Homo sapiens: one gene and its partners. The protein of the gene in region 6 purifies or fractionates together with the protein of the main gene of each other region. This does not show direct contact. Each region holds a gene or a part of one and is shown on either strand. Other genes may lie near its edges. The genes, in order: TMEM43, DLK1, SPPL2B, HTR1E, KCNK16 and BRI3.

What was found.
Region 1: the proteins of BRI3 (region 6) and TMEM43 purify together in Homo sapiens (co-immunoprecipitation; one large-scale study listed by IntAct). This does not show direct contact.
Region 2: the proteins of BRI3 (region 6) and DLK1 purify together in Homo sapiens (co-immunoprecipitation; one large-scale study listed by IntAct). This does not show direct contact.
Region 3: the proteins of BRI3 (region 6) and SPPL2B purify together in Homo sapiens (co-immunoprecipitation; one large-scale study listed by IntAct). This does not show direct contact.
Region 4: the proteins of BRI3 (region 6) and HTR1E purify together in Homo sapiens (co-immunoprecipitation; one large-scale study listed by IntAct). This does not show direct contact.
Region 5: the proteins of BRI3 (region 6) and KCNK16 purify together in Homo sapiens (co-immunoprecipitation; one large-scale study listed by IntAct). This does not show direct contact.

The regions. Positions count from the first base shown.
Region 1 is NC_000003.12:14,135,052-14,139,529, forward strand, and holds part of TMEM43 (transmembrane protein 43), read left to right. Parts: intron 1-106; coding exon 107-181; intron 182-755; coding exon 756-857; intron 858-4,128; coding exon 4,129-4,246; intron 4,247-4,478. UniProt on the Homo sapiens protein: May have an important role in maintaining nuclear envelope structure by organizing protein complexes at the inner nuclear membrane. Required for retaining emerin at the inner nuclear membrane.
Region 2 is NC_000014.9:100,725,472-100,730,434, reverse strand, and holds the start of DLK1 (protein delta homolog 1 isoform 1 preproprotein), read right to left. Parts: upstream 3,544-4,963; 5' UTR 3,367-3,543; coding exon 3,300-3,366; intron 2,040-3,299; coding exon 1,976-2,039; intron 1,500-1,975; coding exon 1,369-1,499; intron 1-1,368. UniProt on the Homo sapiens protein: May have a role in neuroendocrine differentiation.
Region 3 is NC_000019.10:2,334,206-2,338,683, forward strand, and holds part of SPPL2B (signal peptide peptidase-like 2B isoform 2 precursor), read left to right. Parts: intron 1-396; coding exon 397-516; intron 517-3,237; coding exon 3,238-3,420; intron 3,421-3,426; exon of another isoform or gene 3,427-4,478. UniProt on the Homo sapiens protein: Intramembrane-cleaving aspartic protease (I-CLiP) that cleaves type II membrane signal peptides in the hydrophobic plane of the membrane. Functions in ITM2B and TNF processing.
Region 4 is NC_000006.12:86,940,521-86,944,998, forward strand, and holds part of HTR1E (5-hydroxytryptamine receptor 1E), read left to right. Parts: intron 1-4,478. UniProt on the Homo sapiens protein: G-protein coupled receptor for 5-hydroxytryptamine (serotonin). Also functions as a receptor for various alkaloids and psychoactive substances.
Region 5 is NC_000006.12:39,315,342-39,320,351, reverse strand, and holds the end of KCNK16 (potassium channel subfamily K member 16), read left to right. Parts: intron 1-1,218; coding exon 1,219-1,333; intron 1,334-2,399; coding exon 2,400-2,566; intron 2,567-3,404; coding exon 3,405-3,570; intron 3,571-3,909; coding exon 3,910-4,133; 3' UTR 4,134-4,181; downstream 4,182-5,010. UniProt on the Homo sapiens protein: K(+) channel that conducts voltage-dependent outward rectifying currents upon membrane depolarization. Voltage sensing is coupled to K(+) electrochemical gradient in an 'ion flux gating' mode where outward but not inward ion flow opens the gate.
Region 6 is NC_000007.14:98,284,012-98,288,489, forward strand, and holds part of BRI3 (membrane protein BRI3), read left to right. Parts: intron 1-4,478. UniProt on the Homo sapiens protein: Participates in tumor necrosis factor-alpha (TNF)-induced cell death. May be a target of Wnt/beta-catenin signaling in the liver.

The DNA of each region.
Region 1 (4,478 bases), on a different chromosome or scaffold from region 6:
TGTGGAGGTGGGAGAAGAGCCTGAGGGGCGTAGCCGAGGCATCCTGGACCTGGGCCTGGGCCAGCTACTCCGTTCCTCACTCTCCCTGCTTCTCTTCCACCCCCAGGTGGGAGACTTGCGTGTCTCCTTTTCCTATGCTGGACTGAGCGGCGATGACCCTGACCTGGGCCCAGCTCACGTGGTAACCTGGCTTCCCAGGGGCAGACACTAAGTCAGAGCCTCACGACTTTCCTGGACACAGACACCTTGGTCAATGTCAGGAGCGCTTGGACCCCCTTTTCCCTGGGGAAAGGCACACTCTCGCACACACTCTCAGCCAGGCACGCTTCTGAGCAGTTTCAGAGCTCCCATGTCCCCACAGCCATCCATGGACCCCACGTTAAGAAGGGCAGCTCAAAAGGGGTCTCATAGTCGCACCTTATGACAGGTGTTCCAGTCACACACAGACCCTCTCCCCAAGCCCGTTTTGATCTGTCAATAATTGGTCTTGCGTTCCTGGCCTATGTGCAGTCCTGCCCCATCCCCTGCTCTGCGCACTGCCCAAGAGCTTTGAATGCCTGGAGCTTTGAATGGAGCAGCTCAGCCAGAGCTGCAGAGGTGGATGCATCCCAGATGGATGTATAGAGAGAGAAGCCCCAGGGTTTCTGTGCTCACTTCCCCAGCCGGCACCCAGTCCCGGGAGGGTGGGCCATGGCTCTCGTGGGCGTGTCTCCCGCTGGTCACCCCTCAGCTCTAACACCAGGTCCTCTGACCAGGTCACTGTGATTGCCCGGCAGCGGGGTGACCAGCTAGTCCCATTCTCCACCAAGTCTGGGGATACCTTACTGCTCCTGCACCACGGGGACTTCTCAGCAGAGGTGAGTGCTGTGCCCTACTCGTACGGTGGAGGAACAAGCATGTCCTTCCTTCCTTCCAGTGGTTATTTAATAAGATCACACTACCAGGGGTCATAGCCAGTGAATGAGGCAAGAAGAAGAAATAGCGGAATGTTGAGTATGCCTCATCAAAGTGTTTGACCAGGAGTGTTTCAGATTCCAGATTTTTTTGGATTTGCAGGTATTTGTATATACATAATGAGATCTCTTGGGGATGAGAACCAAGTCTAAACACAGAATCTATTTATGTTTCATGTATACTTTGTACACATCGCCTGAAGGTGATTTTATACAATGCAACCCGTCACATGGGGTCAAGTGTGGGATTTCCACTAGTGGCGTCATGTTGGCATTCAGAAAGTTTTGGATTTTGGAGCACTTCAGCATTTGGGTTTTTGGATTGTGGATGCTGAGTCTGTCATGAACCCTCAGTGTGCAGGACTGTGCTAGGCACTAAACTCACTGTGCCTCACAGACTGTCCGGTAGAGGAGTGAGAGTGACAGAAACTCGTAAGTACTGATGCATCGTGCCGAGTGTTGGAAAGAGGAGAACAGGTGCTCTGATACCAGTGGACGTCAGAGTAGAACATCCGTTTCTGCAGTGATCAAGCAGGGCCTCTGACAAGTGAGTTTTGCTGACGAGAAGGGGTTAACCCTAGAAGAATCAGTGATCAGTCAGTTCCAGCAAGAACAGCCCAGTCTGGGCACGAAAGGGTTCACCTTCTAAGGGGGCACCCGGAGTGCTGTGGCCACAGCCCAGAGCGGGGAGAGGGAGTGGGTGGGGGGGCTCCACCAAAGTCTGTGTCCTTCCAGAACATTAGGAGGGCGGGGAAGGGTTTTGGGCCTCAGCTACCTGAGTATCCCTCTCCCATTGTAAATAGGGAGGGCTATGCCTACCCCGGGTCCCAAGGAGAAGGGGTGCCAAGATGTGCTGATTAGTTCAGTTCTGTGCCTTAAAAGTTAGCCTGTCTTCTCTAGGCAGGCAATCCTTCTCTGCAGCAGAAGAATTGAGTCTTTAGTTTTTCTGTTGTTGATGAACACAGGTATCCCTGGTGGGGCACTCTATACCTGCCCTAACCAGGACTGCTGGGGTTTTCATTCCAGAGTGGCCAGAAAGGGTCAAGGCAGCAGACAGGCATCAGGGGTTAGCTGTGACCTTTTGTTCCTATTATTAGATCCTCAGCAGCCATCTGTCCCATTAGCCTCCAGCTTGTGGTGGTGCTTGGGCCTCACCAACTCCTGGTACCTGGCCAGGGCTAGGGTGTGGTCAGGCTGTTGCCCAGGAGCCCAGTTACCAACCTCAGGGTAGGGCTGCCACCTCCCAGCCTAGAAGGCCATGAGTCACCCTTCCACCAGCAGCTGAGGGTCCCCAGCGAGTTTCTAAAATTAGGAGGCCCAGTCCAGGCCTTGCTCTCTCTCCCAGGGCTGAGGCCCAGCTCACGCAGCCGCCCCTCCAGAGAGGAGTGGATGGGGCCCATGGCTTAGGTAATGCCCCAGAAAGGAAGGCCCTGCAGTGCAGATGCTCAGGCGGCCTCCTTACCCCCTGGGTCTCCTGCTGCTTAGCAGCCCCAAAGCCCTGTCTTCCCCCAGCCCAGCCCCCACCCCCACACAAGGTCTGGGGTCTCTGCCAAGTAGAAAAAAGGCCCAGAGCCAGGCAGGCAGCTCAGGGCAAAAGTCAGGATGCCCCGATTCCAGTCCCAGGGGCAGGAGAGTACAGCTGCCCAAGCAGGCACACTGCAGACGGCCCTGGCACTGCCTCCCACCTGCTACAGGACCTTGAGCTGGTGCTGATCTCTCAGCCTGTTTCCTCATTTGTGAAGGGGAAGATGTTTAAGTACTATTAGTAATAGTCACATCATCCCTAACTGGTTTGGTCATTGAGGATTATTCATTCATTCAGCAAGTTTTCATTGAACACCAGGTACTTCACAGACATGCTCCCTGCTCTTGGAAATGTAGCGTTTAGTTAACTGCTTGAGGTGAGACCTTGGGCACATGACTTATTCTCTCAGAGCCTCAGTTTCATCATCTGTAAAGTGGAGGTAAGTATTCCTACCTCACTGAGTGAATTTGAGAATTAAATAATACTTGTAAAACACTTAGGACAGTATCAAATAAATGGTGAGTGATAAATGTGACCTGTTTTTGTTGTTACGGACTCTGAGAGAGGGCCCGATTCAGATCAGAGGGTCAGGGAAAGCCCTCTGAAGAAATGGGGTTCAAGCAAAGCTCAAAAGAATATGTAGGAAGCTGGCCAGGCATGACTGCAGGCAATCGTTGTAGGCAGAGCAAACCCACGCGCAGATACACAGGCGAGAGGACACTTGACCTGGACTGGGGACAGCAGCCAGCAGGGTCAGGGCACTGGCAGCAGGGTCGGTGTCCGGGGGGTGTGGCAGGGCTCTGGCAGGTGACTGTGTGGAGAACACAGAGTGGGTGATAGAAGCAGGGCCAGTGAGGCTCCTGCGGGCAGACAGTGGTAAGAGACTCGGGAATATGTGGCCTGGACTGGATGGGGTGGTAGGGGAGGAGCGAGCCATGTCTTTCCCATAGATGTGAGTGGGTGGGTGGGTGTGCCATGTGCTGAGATGGAGAAGGCGCCAGTGTCAGCACTAGACAGGCTGAGATGTCAAGTGGAAATGTCAAGGAGGTGGTGGAGGTGGTGGGAGCTGCAGGGCTGTGAGGCCCGGGAGAGGGCCAGAGCTGCAGCTTTAAATTGGAGGGTCACGGCATGTGGAGGCCAAGGAAGCAGATGGGATGTCCGGGGAGAGAGTATGGACTGAAGCAGCTAAAGAATTGCAGCATCTAATGGACAGGAAGAGGGGCAGCGACAGCGATGGAGCCTGAGAAGGAGGGTGCAGTGTCCCCAAGCCATGTGGAGAGGTTCTGAGATTAAACAGATCACACACATAGCGCAGAGCATGCTGCCCAGCAGACATCCTCCAACCTGCTCAGGGGTGGTGGGCAGGGTCCTGCTCATTCCAGGTGAGACCGTGGGCTGAGGGCTCCAGGTGCTGGCAGGCTCTGAGCTGAGGAAGGCCCGTACGTTCCACAGAGATCTCATGCCTTGCCCTGTGCTCTGCCAGATGGGCAGAAGGACTTAGCCCTATAGGAGGCTTGCCCCCACTCCGTCTGGCCTGTTCAGAAATGGCCAACAGCTCCCGAGTTGGTACAGCCCCCTCAGGACCTGCCCTGCCGACTGGGTACGCCACTGGCCCTCAGCATCCTGACCTGCCCCCACCTTGTCCTGCAGGAGGTGTTTCATAGAGAACTAAGGAGCAACTCCATGAAGACCTGGGGCCTGCGGGCAGCTGGCTGGATGGCCATGTTCATGGGCCTCAACCTTATGACACGGATCCTCTACACCTTGGGTAGGTGTTGGGGTGGGTCACTGCCCTCCCTCCTGCACCCTGAAAGGGCCTCCTCTGCCTGTCGCATCATCTCAGCCCTTCCAGCCTGATGGGATGGCCCTTGTGCAGATACCAGGCATTTGGCTCATCTCTGTGTCCCCGCTCCATAGCCTTGGGATGAGGGAGCAGAGGAAGGCAGGCTTGAGGGCAGGAGCTGCCAGGGGCCAGGCTGGGTGGGGCCAACTCTGGGGCA
Region 2 (4,963 bases), on a different chromosome or scaffold from region 6:
AAGCTGGCTGCCTTTGTCAACTTGGTGGGGAGGGGACATACCAAGGGCCCATGAGAAGGGAGGCATTTGTCCGGAAAATTTCAGCAAGGGTGTACGGCATTTAGATACCAAAAAGATGGGCTCCAAGCTAAAAGCCTAACCCTGATCCCAAATGGTGGCTTTGCTGGAATCCCCCAGATCCTCAAACGACTCAGAGCTGCTGCCGCTGCTTCTGTGAGGGGCAGCAGAGATGCTGGCCAGAGCATGAGTCAGCTGCGGGTAAACCTTGCACCATATTGCAGGGGCTGGAATTAAGGACCAGAGACAATTTGGGGTGGGAGGGAGCTCAGCTTCAGAACCACGGCTGCCCTGGCTGTACAGGGCAGGGGCCACAACAAAATGCTCTTAGGTGTTCCTTAAGGAAGGATGTTAGATGCAATCGAAGATAAAAATTAACTCTCTTTCTGGGGCTGGGGGAAAGGGTTGTAGCTGGCTTTTTGCCCAACTTCTTTCATATTCCTTAGCAGACACTTGTGCTTCTCTGATCCTCAGTTTCCCTATCTGTACCGTCTTTACTAATGTTGGGGACTGAGGGACAGGGGCCCTGAGGGCAGGCTGCTACACAGCTGGGAGTTTTTTTGTGGACTTCAGTTTGCTCAAACGTTAGGGCTGGTTTTGCCAAATGAAAATGGGCTTAGACGAACATTTCGCAGCCTGAAAATGCAGTGACAGCCAACTCTCAATTGCTTGGGGTAATGGAGGCAAAGATTGCATAAATTAATGAAATCAACAGATAACACCCATCTTCACTTTAACCCTTTCTCAGCTTTTCCCAACTGCAGCCTCCCCCTACACCTGACCCACTCAGTCCAGGCCCCCCAGCCCTGTCCTCCTGGCCCTGACTCAGCACCTGCCCCTCAACCACTGAGCAGTGCTGGCCACCCCCCACCCCGTTTGTTTGTTTGCAGCCTCTTTACAGTCTTGCGTGTGCTTTTCTAGGGAGTCTTAGCTCTGAGATCCCCAGAGCCCTGTCCATCACTGGGCTTCCATGACCTGGACAGGCAGCCTGGGGTCTGTGGTCCCACCGGCCCAGCTGTATGTGTATTTTGTGACTCTTTATTCAACAGGCAGCTCCCTGGCCCCCACGCCATGTTCCCTCTAGGTGCTGGGTGCTGATGGCGCAGAGAAGAGCAAAATAAAGTCCCTACCTCTGAGGAGGCATTCGGTACCCACAGGAAATTTATAAACAGATCTTTAGAATACAGGGCACGGAGTGTGCAGGAATGAGGAAGTGAGGAACACCAGCAACAGGAGACTGGGAGGAGGTGGTAGGGGCTAGGGCAGGCAGGTAAGGACGCAGAGCTGAGGTGAACAAAGGCGAGTGCCAACCTCTATCACAGAGCTCCCCGTCCCAGCCGTCGGTGCAAATGCACTGCCCGGGTTCTCCACAGAGTCCGTGAAGGCAGCCGGGAGAGGTCACGCACTGGTCACAAAGGGGACCCTGCCAGCCAGGCTGGCACCTGCAATGGGTGGGGGAGAAAGGTGGGGACATATGAAGAGGGCAGGGGTAGAGAGGCAGCTCAGGCTACTTTCTGTGGAACCAAGGACCCTTGGGGGTCTTTGCACAGTGGCAGCCGGTGGTCCTGGGAAGTAAACACCAGCCACCTGAATGGGAAAACTTAAAGAGAAAACATGCCAAGCTGAGGGGGCCGACTTGGAGGGGCCCCGAGATCCCGGGGGAGTGCTGCGTTTTGCCGCAGTGGCCTGCAGTGGTCCCACCTGCCCCCCCACCTCTGAGAACGCAGACAGGAGCTGTGGCTGCCCCCCCCCCGCCCCCCCCATCTCCCCAGCTCGCCCCACCAGTTTTCTGCAGGGGCCCGGAAGCTGTTTGCTGCAGCGTAGTGGCCAAGCCCCCTATTTTTTTCTGCCTGACTTCACGACTCCCCAGGCTTCTGCGTGGCCCCTACAAGCTGCCTCTGAGGAGCCACTCTATTACCTGCAAACATTGTCATCCTCGCAGAATCCATTTTGGGGGTTGCAGGCCGGGAAGCATTCAGCCCCTGAGGTACAAGAAAGGTTATACAATTCACCCCACCAGGCCCCAGGCCAAGGCAAAGGCTGTCTTCGCCCACACAGCCCACCACTGCCCTCGAGGGCACCAACAGCCCTCTTGGGTCCTACCAGCCTGGCACACAGTAGGCACTTCCTATCCGAGCATGGATGGGGCTCAGTGCACTCAGGAAAAACATCTCTGCCACGTTCCCAGCAATGAAATGACCACAGTACACTCTCCCTCGTTCTTAGGAGCAGGAGAAACACCTTCTCCTCGGACTCCCAAAAGCAAATACGACACCTCAAGTCCTCCTAACAGCGGGGACGGGGACCGTGGAGGGAAATATGTTGAGCCCTGGGCATGCAGCCTGACCGTCACTTTTGCAACCTGAGCTGAAAAGAGGAGCAGATTTTGAGGTGTTCAACTCCGGGAAAGCCCAGACAGGTTCACCTGGTGGGCGCCCCAGTAAGGCGTCTGCATTCTTTTTAAGGTTCATCCCTATTAAGCCGGGCACCCAGGTCAAATCTTCCCTCTTTCCCCTACCCCAGACTCTTCGCATTAAAAAAACGATGACGACACAGGGTTTTGCTTAGCGGGCTGAGGTTGCAACAACACTGCTTAGAGATTCTGACACTTTAACAGGCACCTACTGTGTGCATTTACTCAACCAGCTCCCCAGCTTTCTAGACAGCCCCCTTACAACCACTGGTGCAATGAGTGGGGGGGCGCTGCAGGAAGGGGGCAACTCTCTCGCTGTCAGAGACAGATGGCCGCTGCAGACAGAAGTGTCGCAGCCCCTCACCTACAGAAACGCGCCACGCAGGAAGGGCTCAGGCTGGGCTTCTCTGGGAATTGGGGGCTAAGACGGCAAAGTCGTCCCCCACTCCCGCCCCGAGACCTGTTCCAGAACGCTCACACAGGGACACCCCAAAGTTGCACCCCAGAGTATTTTCATAGAAGACTCCACAACAGCACCCCATTTTTCCATACCTCCTTGCTCAGCGCACCGACACCCCTCTGGCGCCACTTCTGCAGGGCGGGAAGGGGCTGGGGGTCTCACACATCCCCTGCGCCCTGGGACCCCTGGGACGGGCCTTGGCATGCGAGCGTGGTGGGTAGGGCGAGACAGGCACAGCGCGGGGCTTAGGGCTAGGCGGGACGGGCGGAGTTGGGGCTCACGAGACGGGGCGTGCGGGGCACCGGGCGGCCGGCGGGGAGTCGCAGGCTTCCCCAGAGGGGGCGCGAGCCGGGCCGCCGGGGAACTCACCATAGGTGCTGTGGCCGAAAGCCAGCAGGAGCAAGAGGACGCGCAGGAGGGCTTCGGTCGCGGTCATCTCTGGGCGGCCGGGGTCGCGGTCCCGGGAGCGGTGCGGGCGCGGGTCCGGCTCCTGGCGCCGCACTGGGCTTCTGGTTGCGGACGCGAAAGGGGGCGCGGGCGCGCAGCGAGGGGAAAGCCAGGGCTGCACCGGGCTGCGCGCTGCGCTCTCCACCGCCGCTGCCGGGGAGCTGCCGCCGCCGCCGCGCGCGCCGCCCTTTTCGTACCGCCTCCCCCCTCGCGGCCCCCGCCCCCCGCCCCCGCCTCCGTGCGCACGGGGCCGGCGCCGGCCAGTCCCTGTGACCCCCTCCCCTCGCAGGGCCGCCCCCGACCACGGCGGCGTCCCAGAAGCCCGCTCGCGCACACGGGTGCACTCTTGGCTAGACGGGCACAGGTATCCCGCGAGCGTTTGGTACACGTTCCCTCACACTGTACAGCACGCGGCCGCCGCGCACATACAGGCCTGCCTAGGACAAGTCGCAGGAATCGAACCTGGGCCGCAGACCTCCCCGGAGAGCACAAATCCGCACGCAGGAACACCGAAACACTTATCGCTGAAGTCCCGGGCACACGTGCAATGGTTAGATACCCAGGAAAACACAAAGGCGCACTATGAAGATGTGAACTAAGCACATAATTACACACGCACACAGAAAAACCCCCAGGAAAAGCCCGACGCCCCCTGTACCCCTGGCCATGAAGACGCAGAAAAATGCAGTTGCCCCGTGGCAACCCACACCCCGCAACGGAAACGCACACGGCAACTCAAACACACTGTAGCCCAGACGCCGTATAGACACAGTCCTAGGTGGCAGAGGGTCAAGCGGACCTGCGGTTACCCAACCATGGGCATCCTCCCCCATGTGCCGACCCCCTGCACACAGACGCTTACGCAGAGCCACCTGCACACCCAAACACGCAAACACACGTATAAACAGACGGACACCCGTGCCCGCATTCAGTCACACCCACCCCCGCACACACAGCATCTCAGTCAGGGCCTTAGCCGCGCTGAAACACAAATGCACCGACTCTTACGCACACATGTACGCACAGCCATGCACCTGATACCCACAAGCACACATACCCAGCTGACTCGTGGTCACACACACTGACAAAAACATATACGCAGTCCCCACACACACACGATCGCATCTGTCTTTGTCCACAGTGGCATGCATGGGCAGCCTCACCAATGTGCTCTCACATACACACAATAGCACTCCAGGCACTCGGCACGTATTCCAGACTCACTGGGAGACCTTCTCTGAGGGGTCGCCCGCTGGAGAGGTGGAGGTAGAGGATGCTGATTGCCAGAGACCCTCTTCCTCTGCAGAGCTCCCAGGGAGAGGGAGTGCTCCTCAGACACCCCTCCTCCCCATTGCCCCCGGCTTAGGCTTAGAGCCCTGCTGGAGAGGAAAGCTCTGCACCCCTGCACCCAGTCTGGATGGGGGAGGCTCAGAAAGATAGGGAGGGAGAGGGGTAGGAGGGGATTAAAGATATTTCACCTCCTGGGGGAAGGGTCCCAGGCGTCCCAATCTTTGGGTGGGTCGTTTAGGATACTTAATTTGCATATATTAATTTGCATACATATCCTAGATGCAGGGAGTGGGTGC
Region 3 (4,478 bases), on a different chromosome or scaffold from region 6:
GGCCCTGCCCTGCTTCCCTGCTCAGGGCTCTGCCCGTGGCTCTGCCCGTGGCTGTCATTCTCCCACCGTGCCCACTGATCCTGGGAGGCCCAGGAGGTGGTGCGATCCCTGTTTTTTGGTGCAGAAACTCGGGAGCCACAAAGGGGTGACCTGACACACTCATGGTCACCAGCCTGGGGCTCCCTGAGGAAGGTGAGCCAGTCTGGGTCTTTGCTGTAAACCACGTATGGTCACGTCCCTGTCTGTCCTGTCGAGAGGGGGAAGCATCCCAGACCACCTGGTGAACATGGGCGCCCTTCCTGGAGGCGTCCTCCCCTCCTCGGGCCTGTTTCTCGTGGGGCGGTGCAGCCCCGCACGTCCCGTGCTGTGGCTCTGACTGCTGGCCTTGTCCTGCAGGTGGCCTGTGAGTACGGCATGGTGCACGTGGTCTCCCAGGCCGGGGGCCCCGAAGGCAAAGACTACTGCATCCTCTACAACCCGCAGTGGGCCCATCTTCCGCACGACCTCAGCAAGGCAGTGAGTACCCGCTGGCCGGGCGCCGCTGCGGAGGAGAATGCGGGGGCCCCGGGGCTCTAGAGACACATCCGGCTGGGGTTGCAGGAAAGATCCAGAGGCGAGAGGCAGGCCCTGACCAGGTCTGGGGGACTCTTAGCTGGCCCCCAGTTCCCCTGGGCCTCCCCAACCCTGGTCATCAATGCAAGCTGTCCATGCGGCCTTGGGGTGCAGATCCAGAGGCACCGGCCGAGCTCCATGTGGTAGATAAGGGTCTCTACTGCTCCATGCCGGGGACCCTATCCAGTGGGCCCAGACAGAGGGGTCCTCAGAGGAGTAACAGCAGAGGGCACAGTGGGGCCCCAGGGACGAGACCTGTTCCTTTCACCGTCTTCCTGACTGGGGCACTAACACCTGCTGCTGGATGAGTCCCTCCCTCAGAGGCCCCACCTCCTTTCCCACTTAGTCCTCATGCCCCGCCTCCTTTCCCACCGCATCCCTCAGGCCCCGCCTCCTTTCCACTGCATCCTTCAGGCCCCGCCTCCTTTCCCACTGCATCCTTCAGGCCCCGCCTCCTTTCCCACTGCATCCTTCAGGCCCCGCCTCCTTTCCCACTGCATCCTTCAGGCCCCGCCTCATTTCCCACTGCATCCTTCAGGCCCCGCCTCCTTTCTCACTGCATCCTTCAGGCCCCGCCTTCTTTCCCACTGCATGCTTCAGGCCCCGCCTCCTTTCCCACTGCATGCTTCAGGCCCCGCCTCCTTTCTCATTGCATCCTTCAGGCCCCGCCTCCTTTCCCACTGCATCCCTCAGGCCCCGCCTCCTTTCTCACTTCATCCCTCAGGCCCTGCCTCCTTTTCCACTGCATCCCTCTGGCCCCGCCTCCTTTCCCACCACACCCCTCTGTCCCTGCCTCCTTTCCCACTGCATCCTTCAGGCCCCGCCTCCTTTCCCACCCCATCCCTCAGGCCCTGCCTCCTTTCCCACCGTATCCCTCAGGCCCTCTCTCCTTTCCCACCGCATCCCTCAGGCCCCGCCTCCTTTCCCACTGAGTCCCTCAGGCCCCGCCTCCTTTCCCACTGTGTCCCGCCCCCTCCTGGAGCCCTCGAGGTGTGCCGGCGAAGAGGCACTAGCATCTTCCTGTCAGCTTTATGCATAGTGTGTGCGTGTGAGCACGTGTGTAATCAGTATGTGCCTGGACATGCTCATGTGTCTGCATGTTTATGTGAGTTTGCATCAGTGTATGTGTGCATGTGCCTGAGTGTTTTTTTGTGTGTGAACACATAGGTGTGTGTCAACACATGTAATAGGTATGTGAACACATGTAATAGGTATGTGTGAAGACATGTGCCTGAGTGCATATTTCTGAGTTTGTGTGTGTGAGCACATGTGTACTAGATATGTGCATGGACATGTGTGCCTTAGTGCGTGTTTGTGTGTCAGCACACCTGTGTGTGTGAGCATGTGTGTAATAGGTGTGTGGGGGCATGTGCATGGGTCTGAATGTGTATGTCTGTTTTTATGTGCACATGTGCCTGTGAGTGTGCATGCAATAGTTTTGTGTATGGATGTGTGAGTGCATGTGTGTCTGTATGTGTGCAGGTGTGTGTAAGCATGTAGCTACATAATAGTTATGTTTGTGGATGTGTGCATGTGTCTGCACATGTGTGCGTGTGTACATGTGTAATAGGTCTGTGTGTATGTGTGTGTACATGTGGATAATAGGTTTGTGTGTGGATGTGTATGTGCCTGTGTGTTTGGGTTCGTGTGTGTGCATGAGTGTGTGTGAGTGCATGTGTAATAGGTATGTGCGTGTGAGTGTGTGAGTTCATGTGGCGTGTGTGTATGCATGTGTGTGTAATAGGTGTGTGTGCGTGAGCTTGAGTGCACAGGTATGTGCTTGTATATGCACACGTGTGCTGTGTGCTCTGGCCTGGCTGTGTGTGCGTGTGTGTGTGCATGTGTGTAATAGGCATGTGTCTGCTTGAGTGTGAGTGTGCATGTGTGTGCTTGCGTGTGCATATGTGTGCCATGTGGTCCGGCCTGGCTGTGTATGTGTGCACGTGTGTGTGCATGCACTCCAGCCTGGCTGTGGGTGTGTGTGTGTGTGCGCGCTGGCCTGGCTGCGGCTATGTGCGTGTGTGTGTGTGTGCACTCCAGCCTGGCTGTGGGTGTGTGCGTGTGCACTGGTCTGGCTGTGGGTGTGTGTGTGTGTGTGCATGTATGCATGTGTGTGCCGTGTGCTCCAGCCTGGCTGTGGACGTGTGCTTGTGTGTGCGCGTGTTCCGGCCTGGCTGTGGGTGTGTGTGTGCGTGTGCGTGTGTGTGTGCGTGTGTGTCTTGGCTTCAGGGGCTGTGAGGCCCCTGAGAGTTGGGGCTTTGTTCTCTGCACACTGGAAACCCTCCCCCTTCTCACAGATGCCTGGCCGTGGTGGGGCTGCGGTGGGGACCCACTTGGTCTTGCTGAGTGATCTGTGACGGCTCGCGGGGTGGCTCAGGTATCAGGGGACAGCCATGTCTGTGAGGACTCCGGCCCCGCTCAGATGAGGCAGCCCAGCCCGTCGCCCAGGGTCCGGCTGTGGGAGCTGCAGTAGGGATGGCTCTGCCTAGGTGGGCCGAGGCCGTGCGGGGCTTTAGGTGAGGGCTGGGATCTAACTCAGCGCAGGCTTCAGGTGGGAGAACGGGCAGCTGGGCCCTCCTGGTGACTCACATCACGTGAGACAACACTGTGCCCTGGCCTTTCCAGTCTTTCCTGCAGCTGCGCAACTGGACGGCCTCCCTGCTCTGCTCCGCAGCCGACCTCCCCGCCCGTGGCTTCAGCAACCAGATCCCGCTGGTGGCGCGGGGGAACTGCACCTTCTATGAGAAAGTGAGGCTGGCCCAGGGCAGCGGAGCACGCGGGCTGCTCATCGTCAGCAGGGAGAGGCTGGTACGGCCCTGTGCGTCCCCCGCTGGGCCAGCTCTCAGGGGCAGGAGGGGGGTGCAGGAGGCAGAGATGGCAGCAGCTGGGGCTGGTCTTCCGACTTCTCGCTAAAGGCAGATCCATCTGTGGGGAGGATCTGGGCCGAGTGTGAACATGGGGAGGATCCGGGCCGAGTGTGGCCGTGGGGAGGGCGGAGATGAGTCTGTTCTTCCTGAGCTGCTGGCTGGGGCTGTGGAACTTTGGCCGTGGTCTTGTTGGGTGCCTGTCCTAGAGCAGCCCCCAGGGGTGACGGAGACCACACTCTCTGTGGGGATGGGATTGGGGTGGCTTCTGAGGAGCAGGTGGCCTGGCCCTGAGCTGGTCCTTTCTGGGTACCCTGGTGCCCTTGCCCTCTAGCCGGTGGGGCCGTGCTCGCCTGTGGTCCTAGCCAGGTGGCCTGAAGCCTGGCCCCTTTTCCATCTTCTGTGAAATGGGGCTGTGGTTGAGAGCTGGGGGCCTGGCAGGGCTGGTCACAGCACAGGGACATGCCGACTGCTGGGCTGGGCAGGGTGCGTGGCCGCCCCTGAAGTGTAGTTTTGGAGTAAGAAGGAATGGAGTTCAGGAATTCCCTCACAGCTCTGCCTGTGGCTCTGGGCTGCCCCCGCCAGTGTTGCACCCTGAGCCTGGCAATCCACGGAGGCCTGGTGCAGGGGCTCAGGGCCGAGGGCAGAGCAGGCCGGGCAGAGCCGAGAGTGCCATCCCTGTCCGCACACGCTGCCGTCGTAGTTGAGAGAGGCCCTCAGTGGGTGCGGGGCTCAAGGCGGCTTAGTGGGCAGGCATGGGCTGTGACAAGTATCACTCAGGACTTGTATGTGCGGTTCGGGAGTCCCACGGCCGAGGGAGGGATTAGTGGCGCTTTTAGGCCTGGGGCCCTGTTGTCAGGTGAAGAAGGCTTGATGCCCTTCGGCCTCCCTGTTCTTGGGTCCTCCTGGGGGGCCGGAGGCTGTCAGCTGCAGAGGGGGAGCCAGCAGGCGCCCCCAGCCTGACCCGAGCCTCGAGTGAGGGTCCCAGGAGAGGAGGCGAAT
Region 4 (4,478 bases), on a different chromosome or scaffold from region 6:
GCAAGGCCTTGTCTCAAAAAAAGAAAAGAAAAGAAAGAAAAAGAAAGTAGGTCTCTTTGCAGAAAGCCTCAGGCCCTGAACTTTTGTGTCATCTTCTCATTACTCAAGTCTAATTCCCTACATCTCACTTTTACACACAGATCATTTTTTTCATGTTTGTTTTGATTGCCCACCCTGGAATTCTATTTCTGCACTACCCTTTAAAAGTGAAAGATCAAATCTAACGCTCTAATGTGGGAAAGCATTCCCTCTATTTCTACAAGCTTATTTACACAAAAAAATAAGCTTGAGACTGATCAAAAGCTGAATTTCTACCAAATAGGAACTTACTTTTTATGCCGTAAATTATCAAGGCCATCTCAAGGCAGAGGTGAGTTTAGCATCTCATGCTTTATGCTCCTTTCTTCTGCACCTACCAGATTTTTATTACATGTGAAATTATATGAACATAAACCCCAGGGAAACATTGAAGATGAGTGTGCCGTCACAAGTGACGAGGGGACAGATGAACAGGGAAGAGAAATGGGGCAGCAGCACTTTAGAGTGACTTACTTCTCTCTTGTTTTCTCCTCCCTGAATCATTTTCTAGAACCAGTATTGTGGCCCCTAAAATTTGGGGCTTAGGTCAGTCAACTTACCAAAGTTCATCTTCCTGGTGATGAAAGGACTTTCATCAAAATCCCAGCTACTTTTTATTCGTTCCCACATTTTGTGGATTAAGAAACTGAGAACCAGAATTTATAGAGATCACTCAATCAATTGGCATATTCCCGGATCACAACAAATTGATAAAATTCTTGAGAACCCTCTTTCTAATACAGATTGACTATAATTTTGTCTTTCATTTTTAGTTCTCTTATTTTGTCTCATGCACTGTGGATTATCTGGTTTACTGCAGTCCTTACCTGAATAGATGTCAGTGTTTTGATCCCATTGTTGTATTCCCCTAAAACACGTCAAATGAAAAACTGGACACTTTAATAGGTTTATTGTTAGCACTCTCTCATGCTGATCAATTCTCAACACATGCAGTTGTAGGATTAGGAAGACAAAATCCTTTAGAAGAAGCTATGAAACCTAATCCTTCTGCATCTGGATCATTTTAAACTACAAGTTGTAAGAGGAATGAGCATCTCTGGATTCTAGTTATCAGTGCAGACCAGATGGAAGGTCTTTATGAAATCTGGTATGAGAAGGAAAGCATTTTATAGCAAGAAGAAAATATTTTGAGAAATAGCTACCAGCAGCAGCAGCTAGCAGTTCTAAAACTCTCAGATCCTCCTAATGACCCCATTAGGGAGGGAGGAAGGGAGCAAGGAAGGAAGGAATGAAGGAAGGAAAGAAGAAAGGAAGGAAGGAAGGAAGGAAGGGAAGGAGGGAAGGAGGGAAGTGTTATAAATATTGGTCAGGGAAAAGTTTTATTATTAATGACAGATTAAATAATTAGCTACTAGGAAAATTCAAGGGGATACATAAAAATGCCATTAGAAAGAATAAGAGAACCCAGTAAGGTGGCTAGCTACAATAGCTTGCCTGGTTAGCGACAATATAATCATAGGGATTTATATTACGCTTGTACACTGTTGGGCAGAAAACATGCCTGAGAGGTATAAAAGATGCTGTTAGCATCCAAGAAAAATGGGAAAGGAAAGCCCACCTCATCTGAGGAAGATGGAGGAAGAAGAACCTACAGAAAAGGATTCCACATTCCAAACTCATCCCTCTGAATTCAGTAATATTTATCCTTATATGATTTCTGACAGTGTAGTTTGTCATTGTAATTAATTCTTTCCTGTAAGTAAACAAGAATTGTATACTTACTTAAGTACCTTACATTTTAAACTTTATTACATAGTCCTAATTTTAATGTTGAACTCTGCCCTAGTCAAGGAAGTATTTGTTACCTAACACAAGAATTTGATATACAGTCATCCATAAACACTATCCTACCATATAGTTCATCATAATTTAACATTCAAAGAAAGAAGCATGATTTCCTCTTTTATTATGCTTTCATTTGAGCCATTTTAACTTTCTTACCATTCTTTCCTTCTGAACCTAATTCAATTCCTTACACAATGCTCTAAAAAATCAAGGATTAAATATGTAACTTAATTTATAATTAGCAAATACATCATTTACAAGATGCATTCATATTGGCAAGCATATTTTATTTCATAGATTGTAAACTGGTAAAACAATGTAATCTCCTCACCCTCTCTGCAATACAGTAAGCCTGTTTCTAAGACCATCAAGGTTTTACTTTATGTCCGAGGCATTGGAGAACCAGACTGTACTGACCCCAGGGTTTGGTGACTTACATATAAATGAAGCATCTTACCAAGAAGGGATGAAAAATGACTTTAGAGGAAGCAAAAGTCTCAAAGCTCACAAGACTTGATTACTTTCAGCTTGGTGACAGAGGCAATGCTCTTGTGATGCAGATGGAGTAATTTCTCCAGCACAAAAGATGTCCAGCCGGGTCCCATTGGCTTTGAGATAATCTCTCACATTGCATTAAGTGTACTGAGTACCCTTTCTCAGACTTATGTACCATTAGCATGCATTTAATTAACAGTTAATGATTACATAGTATTGTTACTATTACCACATAGTCCTGTTATATTAAAATACATGAAATTTGTAGCTATGTTTTGCCTGTTTAGTAAAATGAGTCTGAATCTAAGGGTGAGAGGGTCTACACACAGCCAAGAGGATGGGGTATTAACCCAGGCCTGTGTGAAGATATTTGCATCTCATGGAATGCTCTCCAGAGAACAAACTGACCTACCCTGTGCATGTCAGCTAAGCTCCCGCCAGCTTCCTCAGGGCTTGCTGAATGTACAGTGAGTGCCACAGTGCCAGCGTGGCAGTGAAGCACAGGCCCAACTCTACGGACCTGGGGTCAGAAGGCCTGGGTTAATACCCCATTCTCTTGGCTGTATGAGCTGCATGGTCTGTCATCGTTACAATGGGGACAATAATACATGCCCTGTCTACCTCAGCCTCCTTTCAGGGAAGTTTCTCAAAACAGAATATGCTATTGTGATTCATTGTCACCTGTGATGTCAAACTGCACCTTGTGTTATACTACTAGGGGGTAACACAGCATGGGGCTCAAGCCCAAGCTCTCGAGTCCAGAAAGCCAGGTTCATATCCCAGCTCTGCCATTCATTAACTGCTTTCACATCTCTAAACCTCAGTTTCCTCATTTGTTGGGGCTCACATAACAGTACTATGTCATAGGGCTATTTATGAGGATTAAATGTGTGTATTCATTATTGCTAAATAATAAATTACCCCAAAACCTAATGGCTTAAAGCAACAGATTTTTATTATCTCTATGATCATAGTTCCATGGGTTGGGAATCTGGGTATGGCTTAGCTAGGTCCTCTGGCTCAGGTCTGTCACTCACAGGCTGCAAAGTTTCAGCCGAGACTGCAGACATCTCAAGGCTCAACTGGGGAAAGGTAACGCTTCCAAGCTCGCTCACGTGGCTGTTGACAAGCCTCAGGTCCCAGCTGGCTGCTGGCTGGAGACGTTCTTTTGCTACCACATGGACCTCTCTATAGGGCTACTAACAAAACAGAGTGCTTCATGCAGATGTTGCAGCTTGCTGTCCTTGGAGCAAGGGCTAAGATTGAAAGATAGCAAAATAGAAGCCAAGGTCTTTTTGTAACCTGATATCAGAAGTGATATCCCATGGCTTCTGCTGTGTTCCTCATTAGAGACAAGTCACTAGTTTCAGCCTAATTCAAGGGGAAGGGATTACACAGTGGGAGGAATACCTACAGGAACCAAATCATTGAGAGCCACCTGAGATACTGCCTGCCACAATATAAGACATCAGAAGCTGTTTGATAAAGACTCAATTCAGTATCACCTCGTGGTTTTATCTCATAGTAATGTTCTCAGACTGAAATTAGATAATCTGTCAAAGAATTTGTAAAATATAAAGCTCTATACAATATCAAGATTTTATTAGTTTTATTAATGCTGAGAATCCAGTTCCACTTTATAGATAGTGATATAAGAACAGCAAATCAATGATTAAGAGATGTGAATTTTACACCTTGCTGTGTGTGTGACCTTGGAAAAGCCATTTATTTGTTTCATACCTTAGTTCTCTCATGAAAGTGATGATAATAACAGACTTACCAGGATAAAATAGATAATAGACAGCCATGCAGCACATTGACAATATTTTGGTCACCCACAAACCACATATATGACAGTGGTCCCACAAATTATAATGGAGCTGAAAAATTCCTACAGCCTAGTGACATCATCGCTATTGCAATGTTGTTGTAGCACAATGTATCGCTCATGTGCTTGTGATGAGGCTGGTGTAAGCAAACCTGTGCTGCCAGTTGTATAAAAGTATAGCACATACAATTATGTATAGTATATAATACTTGATAATAAACAACTGTTACTGGTTTATACATTTACTGTACTATACTTTTTATCATTATTT
Region 5 (5,010 bases), on a different chromosome or scaffold from region 6:
CCCCCAGAAGTGAGGGTCTCCAGAGAACGAGCATGTTCGGGAATGTTGGGCCCTGGCCACTTTGTGGATGTGGGAAAGAAAGGGAGGCCAAAGTCCACATCTTAAGAGGCCAGTTCCCGTCAAAGTGAGGAGAAGCAGACAGCCTGTGACCGCAGATGCCCTGACTGGCTTGGCCCACCAGGGCCACCCCAGCCCTGATCTAAGCACACCCACCCAGCCAGCGGGAACTGGTTCCCATAGGAATTGGAAGCCAGAACTGTTGTGTCCCTGGCTTCCTCCTGCCTTTGGGGCTCTTCGGTGGCAAGGCTGTGCTGCTGCTCTGAGACAGTCCACAATTAAAGAGGAGAGGGTTGGGGCAGGGGAGGAGAGAGCCCTGCCTATTCTCCAAGGCGGCTGGGCCCAGGGACTGGAGGTTGTCAGCAGTGGGGCAGCGAAGGGAGGTGTTGTAGGCTTGAGCCGGCAAAGGTTCGGGTCTTGTGAAAACACATGCAACACACATACAAACATGCACACATGTGCAACATACAGTTGCCATGCACAACACGTGCATACAACACATCACATATAAACAACCACCACACACACACACACACACACACACACACTCACACGTGCCACCTTTGTCTTGGCCTCTGTTAGAATTTCTCCCATAGGCAAGGGCTGAGGCTCACTAGAGAGCAGCAAAGAGCAAGGGTGCCCACTCGCCTGGACACTTAGGGAACACAGGGCTCTCTTTCCCACCATTAGCTTCATAGCAGGCAGCCCATGGCTTCCCTGTGGTCCCTAAACCCTGTGTTCCCCAGCAATCCCTTCCAGACATACCCAACCTGAAATCCTCCCATTGTTCTAACAGCTGATGTGGGTGCCATCCTTTTGGCCACCAGCAGCATCTCCCACGGGACCCCTCCCTGAGCATCCTCCACCTCACCCCTCAGGCCCATCTCCCGCCCCAGCCCATGCTTGCAGCCCACACCTCAGTCAGCCCTGGCCAGTGGAACAGACAGTGGAACAGACACTGGAGTTGGAGTCCAGTCACCTTGCACAGGTCACTTAGCCACTCTGAGTCTTCATTTCCTTTTTCCATGAAATGGGAACAATATCATCTAAGAGTATCATTAGATGAGATGACACAAAAGCATGCTGCCAAAAGCATGGCAACAACTGGTGCCCAGTAACCATCAGCTCCTTCTTCCTCCCCTGCCATGCCACCCCCTACAGGTCATCATGGAAGCCTGGGTGAAAGGTGTGAACCCCAAAGGCAACTCTACCAACCCCAGCAACTGGGACTTTGGCAGCAGTTTCTTCTTTGCAGGCACAGTCGTCACTACCATAGGTAAAGGGCTGGGGTAGAGAAGAGCTTCCCCAAGGCCCCTGTCTTAGTTTGGGCTCCCCAAAAGCAGATGCTGAGACAAGGATGTGGTTTGTCTAGGAGATTATTCAGGAAGCCCAGGGAGGGAGTGGGTAAGTGAAACAGTAGGGAGAAGGTGGCAATGAAATTTGCATTAATTAGCAGATTACTGGCTTGGGTGACTGAGCTCACTTCTCCTTGGGACCCTCTGAGAGGCTAGATAGAGCCCTTCCTCAGAACGGTCCAGCGAGGGACAAGAATGAGGGGCCATTTAGCTACCAACTCCTGCCCTCAAAGGTTGAGAGCTGGTCCCGAGTATATTAGTTCCCCAGCATTTTGAAACTTCCCATAGACCAAGCATACTCCTTTGGCCAGAAGAATCTCTCAGGTAGAGAGAGATGTGCAGAAACTGGGAGCGGGGGTTGATTTGTATACAGGAACTGTCCACCAAAGCTTCAGGTGGTATCTCATGTGTTCTGAGGGAACAGGGCACTGACAGCAGCTGCTACACCCCCTCGGCCAGAAAACTCACTCCATCCCACCCCAAGGAAACCATCAGATCCAGGTCTACCCCATCCATTCAGTTAAGTCCAATTCCACATACTTTCCTTGAACTCAGGTGACATTCCAGGCAGAGTGATGGAGTTGGGGGTGAGAGATACAAACTTGGATCAGACCCAGGCTCAGCCTGCAAGGAACTTCCAGTCCAACAAAGAGGAACATGATAAATACACAAAAAAAAGTAATAGAAAACAAAGTCGATAATTACATAGCAATGACATAAAACACTATGGGGAACCACACCCAGAAGGGAGAAGGAAATCGGCAGTCAGGAGGGCTTCATGGAGGCAGAGTCATTTGAGATGGGCCTTCAAAGATGAGCAGGAGTCCTATAAATAAAAATCATTCCAGCAGAGTTCATGGGAACAGGGGAGCTTCCCCTTCTCACCCCCAGAGGTGGTGACAGACAAACCTCAGCTAGAGTCTGGGGAAGAGGAGCAGAGGGCGTTCTAGAGTCTCCATATTTGCACACGCCCCCCTTCCCTTGCAGGATATGGGAACCTGGCACCCAGCACAGAGGCAGGTCAGGTCTTCTGTGTCTTCTATGCCCTGTTGGGCATCCCGCTTAACGTGATCTTCCTCAACCACCTGGGCACAGGGCTGCGTGCCCATCTGGCCGCCATTGAAAGATGGGAGGACCGTCCCAGGCGCTCCCAGGTATGCCCCCTAACTCCCTTACAGGCCTGCTGTGACAGATCTGTTGCAAGTGGAGTTCCCCAGAAGCCGATGCTGAGATGGAGTTTGGCATGCATGGTGTTAGGGGTAGATGCCTGTGAAAGAGGAAGGGTGAAGGCAGGGTTGGGCAGAGTGGGGAGTTGGATCTCTATGCATGCTCTACAAAGGCTTGGCCCCAAGGAGCTCTACAGCATGTGAGAGCTGTCAGAGTTGTCCCACAGTGGGCGGAACCAGCCAGGTTTTCATACCTGCCTCAATCAGGCACTGGGTGTGGCCTTCCCAGGAAGGGTATGCCCCTAGGCCAGGAGGTTCTCTGCAGCTGAACACCCTGAAGGAGCTGGCAGCTGGCCCACCGTCCTCCTTTAAGTGAGGGATCTCTGTAGCACATCTTCAAGGTCATCACAGAACTCCAACATCCTTTTGTGCAGTAGCAAACAAGCTCTGCAGGCTGCCCAGCATGCCCTCAGTGCCCACCCTTGGCCAGCCACTTGCAAGGCCAGAAATACGCAGACAGTTCAATGATACTTTTCTGTTCCAGATCTGAGTCCCCAGGGAGCCTGTTCAAGTGTGATCCCCAAGTCCAAAGGGGTCTCCAAATCGCTTCTTGACCCACTAACGCAATCCCTCTGCCGAAATCTTTCCCTGGGTGGGACAAGGTCATGCACACATAGATACAACCTCCACCTCGAGGGTCTGCAGTGCAGGAAAGGGTCCTAGCTATGGCCCAGTCCCATTCCCATGTTTACCCCAGACTCCCCCCAACCTCATACAATCCTGGAGACTTTCAAGTGGACTCAGAGGCCAACTCCCTCCCTCCTAGGTACTGCAAGTCCTGGGCCTGGCTCTGTTCCTGACCCTGGGGACGCTGGTCATTCTCATCTTCCCACCCATGGTCTTCAGCCATGTGGAGGGCTGGAGCTTCAGCGAGGGCTTCTACTTTGCTTTCATCACTCTCAGCACCATTGGCTTTGGGGACTATGTTGTTGGTGAGAACAAAACAGTCACATTATCTCAGGGTGGGGGTGCCCACTGGGATTTGGGGGATGGAGAGATGTCAGCTGAGGACAACTATTGAGGATAAGATAGCCCTTGGTCATTCAAGGGAGCCAAACCAATGATTTCTGGGACTACTGTGGATTCTAAGCAACATTCTCAGAAGTTTCTGGTCTAGGACCCATCACCACCCTGCAGAGACCTACCTCAACTGCTGTTCCTTGTTATGAGGAAGAGGGAGAGAGCATCCTGGCTGGTGAGGGTCCCTATGGAAACTGGAGGTGGCTATGCCCTGAGACCCCTGGCATTGATGCCATTCCCTTCCCTGGCAGGCACAGACCCCAGCAAGCATTATATCTCAGTGTATCGGAGCCTGGCAGCCATCTGGATCCTCCTGGGCCTGGCGTGGCTGGCGCTGATCCTCCCACTGGGCCCCCTGCTTCTGCACAGATGCTGCCAGCTCTGGCTGCTCAGTAGGGGCCTCGGCGTCAAGGATGGGGCAGCCTCTGACCCCAGTGGGCTCCCCAGGCCTCAGAAGATCCCCATCTCTGCATGAGGCCCCCGGGGGGGGCCCAGAAACCCCTTTCATCCTCCCCAGTCCCACCCTATCTGCTCTCTGGATTTCCAGCCCTGCTTTCTCCTCTCCCAACCCCCTCACTTCTCAGCCAGGGCTGGTCTCAGGAGCTCTCCCAAGAGAGAAAGGAGACAGGTATATCCAAGAAAGTAACAGAGAGGAGACGTGAGATAGGATTAAAGACATGTGTGGATGGGGAGGTGTACCCTTGTCCCAGAGCCCCTGCCACAGCCTTCCACCCAAAGGTAGTGGCCAGATCTCCACTGCCCTCCCCATGCCCCCTTCCAGGAGACCTTACACAAACAAAGGATGACTTTACTTTTGCCTCATTTGATATGTGCACAGTGCATTTGCCAAGCCCCTACTATGTGCCAGGTGCTGTGCCAGGGTCTGTGCCAGGGTCTGGGGATACAGCAGTGGAAGTGCCTGCCCTTGATGTGCCTTTAGTTGCTAGGCAAGCAAAGAGGCAGCCCCAACACAGTGCCCAAAATGCTATGATGGGAATAGCCCCAGGGTTGATGAGAGCCCATGGGAATGGCTGGCAGGGAGCATCAAAGAGAGGGGAGACCTGGGCAGAGACTTTGGAACAATCTTAGTGAAAAGAGGATCTCTGCCCTCAGGAAGCTCTCAGCCGAGGGGCAGGCGAGCTGCCTCTCAAAGCTCGCCAGCTCCCCTTGCCTAGAAGTCCAGGGCTGTCTGTGAACAAAGCTTAGGACCTCTTGGGTGTCCTACCCACTTTCCTGAACATGGCCTCCCCTGACCCTCACAGGCCACCCCCTTAACTTCATCACTCCCTCTGGGCTCCTGCCTTCTCAAGAGCCTTTCCAAACACCCCATGGGAAGCCAGAGAGCCAGCAGA
Region 6 (4,478 bases):
TAACCTGGAGGTGCTCTCCAGTTATGCAGAACCTGGAGCGGGGTCAGACTGTGCTCTGCTGGGAAGGATCTTGGGCTCGGCCCTCAGAGGCTGTAGGGGTGTGGGGTCCTTGGTTACTTAATCACTGCTCTCTGCCTCTGGGCAGCTGCACCAGGCAGGGTGGAGGCTGGGTCCTCTCTGGACAAGGTTGGGGGGTCCTTAGTCCTTTAAGTTGGGACCAGAGCACTCTTGGATCCTGCGGCGACCCCTTGGGTTGCAGCCAGGCCCTCCCAGCACACACGTCCCTGCGCTCTGCCCGTGGTGCCTTGGATGCTGGAGAGTGGCTCTGGCTCCCCGAGGCTTTGCCTCTGCAGCTGCATTGGGCATGGGATGGGCCCCTGTGCCCTGTGGCAGCCAGAGGGCGAGCAGGGGGCTGGGTGCTCTGCTGCTGGCGTGGGTGGGGTGTGTGGTCCCTGGGCCACTCCTCTCTGCGAGGAGAGTGGAGACGGTTCCCTGAACACACAACACACACGTCTGGCCGCTGCCTGGCGTCTTGGCCCGGGAGACAGGATACCACTCACATGACCACACTTCCTCCTGCCCCAGGTCCAGCCCGCCGGGCTCTGTCCCCCTCCCTGCCTGGTGGCATGGCAGGAATTTGCCCAAGTCACACATCTGTTAGTCCTTCTGAGTGAGGCTTGGCCAGAGAAGCCCGTGTCCCTTGTGGCTCTGCTGCCCTGGCCAGGCCTTCGCTGAAGCTGCCTGACTCCATCTTCCCTTTCTAGCCGTTTATGAGGAAGCATTTCCGCAGCCTGGCGGCGGATATGTCCCTGCTCCTCCCACCCTCCTGCTTCACCCCTGCCCTGCCCTGCCCTGCCCTGCCTTGCCCTGCCCAAGGCCTGGGCCTCCCTGAAGCCAGGTTCTCCCTTGCCCAGGGAGGCCAGTCATTCTTTGCTGGGGGTGTGGTTGTACCTAGGTGCAGGATGAGGTAGCTGCGCTGGGAGGCTCTCCTGGGCTGGAGCAGAGCCTGCGTCCTGCAAGCGGGGAAGGCAGGAGTGGGGAAGGCCCCTGGCCTGCACCAGGCCCCCATGAGTACTGGCTGGGCTGTCACTGGGTATTTAGTTTTGGGGGTGACCAGAGAGAGAGGAAATCCTGGAAAGGATTTCACTTTTCCTAGGGAAGGTGAAAAGAACAGCTGTGGAGGGCGGATGTCGCTCAGAGGTCCAGGGTGCGGCTCAGTGGCCAGCGTGGAGGCTGCCACGGCCCTTGGGGGGCAGAGGTGGGCTGTGGAGGGCACGGGGTGGTGACTGTGGAGCCCGGGAGGGGCTGGAGGGGAAGGAGCCTGTGACAGCCTTGGGCTTCCAGACGATGGAGGTGGAGGGGCTGCTCCCTCCTACCACCTGTGACCTGGAAGCCAGAGCTCCCCTGGTTGAGGAAGTGGCTGAGTTAGCTGGGATGGCTCTGCCCATATGTATGGCCTGTGGGCTGTCCCCGTCCTGACAGTCTTGGCCTGAGGTGTGGGGGCAGCGGATGGGCCGGAGCTTGGGCCTGGGCTGCTTGCTGGGCAGGGCTGCAGACCTCGGTGCCCAAGTGCTCCCTCAGTGGCCTCCTGAGTCTCTGACCTTGGGCTCAGCCCCCAGCTGTGGGCCAAGTGGCACTGCTGGGGTGGGTGTGGTGGCAGGCAGAGTCTCCGGGCACCTTCTCAGGCCTTTCTTCCACAGGGGAGGCGAGGGCTGGCCCTGGCCATTGGGTTTGCTGGGAATGGCCCTGGGAGGTCCTGGTGAACTGTCCCTAAGCCAGGCAGCTCCCCTGTGGGGAGTGGACACCCTGGGACAGCCAGAGCCTGGCTGGAGCTGCTTTGGGGCCACCTCGCCCTGCGCTGAGCATGGCTTCAGGCCCTCAGCCCTCTGAGGAAGCCCTGCGTCTCCCCTTTTCCTGGCGAGGCCTGGCCTTCCAGCGGGGTGGTGGTCTGGGGTTGTTCCTGGGCGTGGATGGTGCCTTGAGGCCACCATGTGCGCAGAGGGCAGCTTGGTGCCCTAGGGCCAGCCCCCTGTGACACTGCCTTTGGGGGCTACCTGGGAGGGAGAACTGGGACCTGCAGGATGGGTGCTCGTGACTGGGGAGCCCATCTGGGTTCAGATCCCAGCCACGCCTTTCCCGGCTGGGAGTCCCTGGACACACCCTCAGCTTCAGCCTCCTGTAAAGTGCCTGTGGGGACACAGGGAGGGCGAGGATGGCCTTCTCCCTGGGCAGCTCAGAGCCCTGCTGCCAGCCCCCTCTGTCCTTGGTGAGGCGGGAGCCCCGCGGCCTCTACTGTCCCAGGGCCCAGCTCTGAGTGGATGACAGTGGCATGACTGGCCACTTTCACTGCAGGACTGGAGTCGCCTTAAGGGAGTGCTCTTGGAATTAGTCAGTTCCCTAATTTCGCCAGTGGCCATGGTCCCTCCCTGGCCGCGTGGCTTATTGCACAAGAATGGGGGAGGGGCGGCTAGAGAGAGCCGGTCAGGACCAGAGCGGTTGAGAAGGTTGAAACCCACCTCACCAACTCAGGTGGGCTCTTCCGGGTTTGGAAGGGAGGAGAACTCGAGGCTGTGGGGACCGCAGGTGTTCCGGGGCAGGGGTTCCCCTTCTGCCCTCCAGTGCTGGGGACAGGACTGCCCTGCAGCTTGGGGAGTCTTGACCTAGAATCTGGATTGTGTTTCTCAGTTCAGAAGATTTGGGGTTTTAAAAAGTAAATGATGCCAACACTCCTTTTGAGGTCTAGGGCAGTACTGCAGTTAAAACTTTAATATTTCTGCAGCAAGACATGAATATTCAGATAAAGTAGGATAAATTACGACTATAAATAGCCACACACCAGTTCAGGTCACATGTTGCTGCCAGGTGAGTTTGCTGTCAAGTGACAGCGAGTTCTGCCTTCAGCGCCTCTTGGCGTTTGAAGTTGTGGGTACGGCTGTGGAATCCTGGGGGGTAGGGAATGCTGCCCACCCTTAGGCTGACCCCAGAGCCAGAGGTGAGGGCCGAACTCTCCTGGCCAGCCCTCGGGCCTTCGAAGCCCGTTCAGAGCTCTCAGGCCCAAGTGCTCGTTCTCCCGGGCCGGGGTTCTCAGGTCTGGATCACAGCCTTCTGTTGCTGGCAGAGGCCTGAGCCTCCTGGGACAGCTGGATCTGTCCAGCTCCCGGGCGGCACTGCAGGGAAACAGGCTCGCTCTCCCCAGAGACCCGGGGGCCTTGGCCCTCCTACCCTCTCTTTAAGCGGTGTGGAGGTGGGCAGGAGGGTGGGGGTTGAATGGACCAGGGATAGGGAGGCTGCCTTAGGAGGTGCCGGAGTGGGTCCCTGGACTGAGGGGCTCAGGCCAGGGTGGCACAAACGGCCCAGCCCTGTGCTCTGGCTGAGGATGGGATGGGTCTGGACAGAAATTCCGTGGGTTGGAAGGAGGGTGTTTCCCTGTGCCTGGGAGGCCGTGGGGTCAGCACATTAGGTTTGGCCCATTGTGCTGCTTGCAGCCCCGGGGCTGGGAATCAAGGTGCTGGGAAGAGAGGCGCCGGGGCCTGGGTGGGCTGGGCTGGCGCTGCTGGAAATCCTAGCACTCAGGTGGGCCGGCGCCCTGGCCCGTGGCAGTGGGAGTGCAGCAAGAGTGAGCAGCCTTCCTGCACTTCTCAGCTCTGACAGAGTAGGTGGGTTTTGGGTCTGGATGGAGAATTAGGAAGCAGGAGGGCGCTGCTGCTCTTGGACTTGGGTCCCAGGCGCGAGCAGCAGCTGCAGGTGGGAGGCTGGTGTGGGCGGGGCCCCCAGGCAGCACTGTGAAGCCCCACCCCTGCCCATTGCACCATCACACCTGGATGTCTCTGCTGCGCCCCATGGGCGGGCTCCAGCCGGGCTCCCCACCCACACCCCTTTGCCCAGCCTCCTCCCAGGCATCTCTGGGCCTTTGAACAGGCAGTCAGCTCTGCCTGCAGCCCTGCCTCTCAGCAGCTTTGGTCCTGAGGTGAGGTGCTCAGATGGTCACTGATTGGGCTGGCTGAGGGGTGCCCGGTGACACTGGGGACCACTCTGGGGGGTGCGGGCCTCTCCCCTAGAAGGATTTCTCAGCCGGTTCACCCTCCCTGTCTGCTTTTTCATGGGACATTTTCTAACCAGAATATACAGCCAGTGTGTTTCCTGGGATTTGACCGCAGATGCCAGGAAGAAAAGGGAAGAGGAAGCTCCCCTGAGAGGCCTGAGGCCACTGGCTCCCTCCAGCTCCCCCGGAACCTGTCATGGCCATCTGTGGGGACACAGCTGGTGCTTGGCCTTCCCGAGGCTCCCCCACCTCGACTGTGTGGTCTTGGGAGCTGTGGCACCTGGGGGAGAAGGTCCTGGAGCCAGGCAGGGCGTGCTGCAGTCGGCAGGGCTGGGCGGAGGTGTCCTGCCCAGTCTGGACTGGCAGGGGCAGCCCTGGGCAAGGCTGAACAAGTGTGGTGGCCTGACGACCTTCTGGGGCTTAAATAGGGGACACA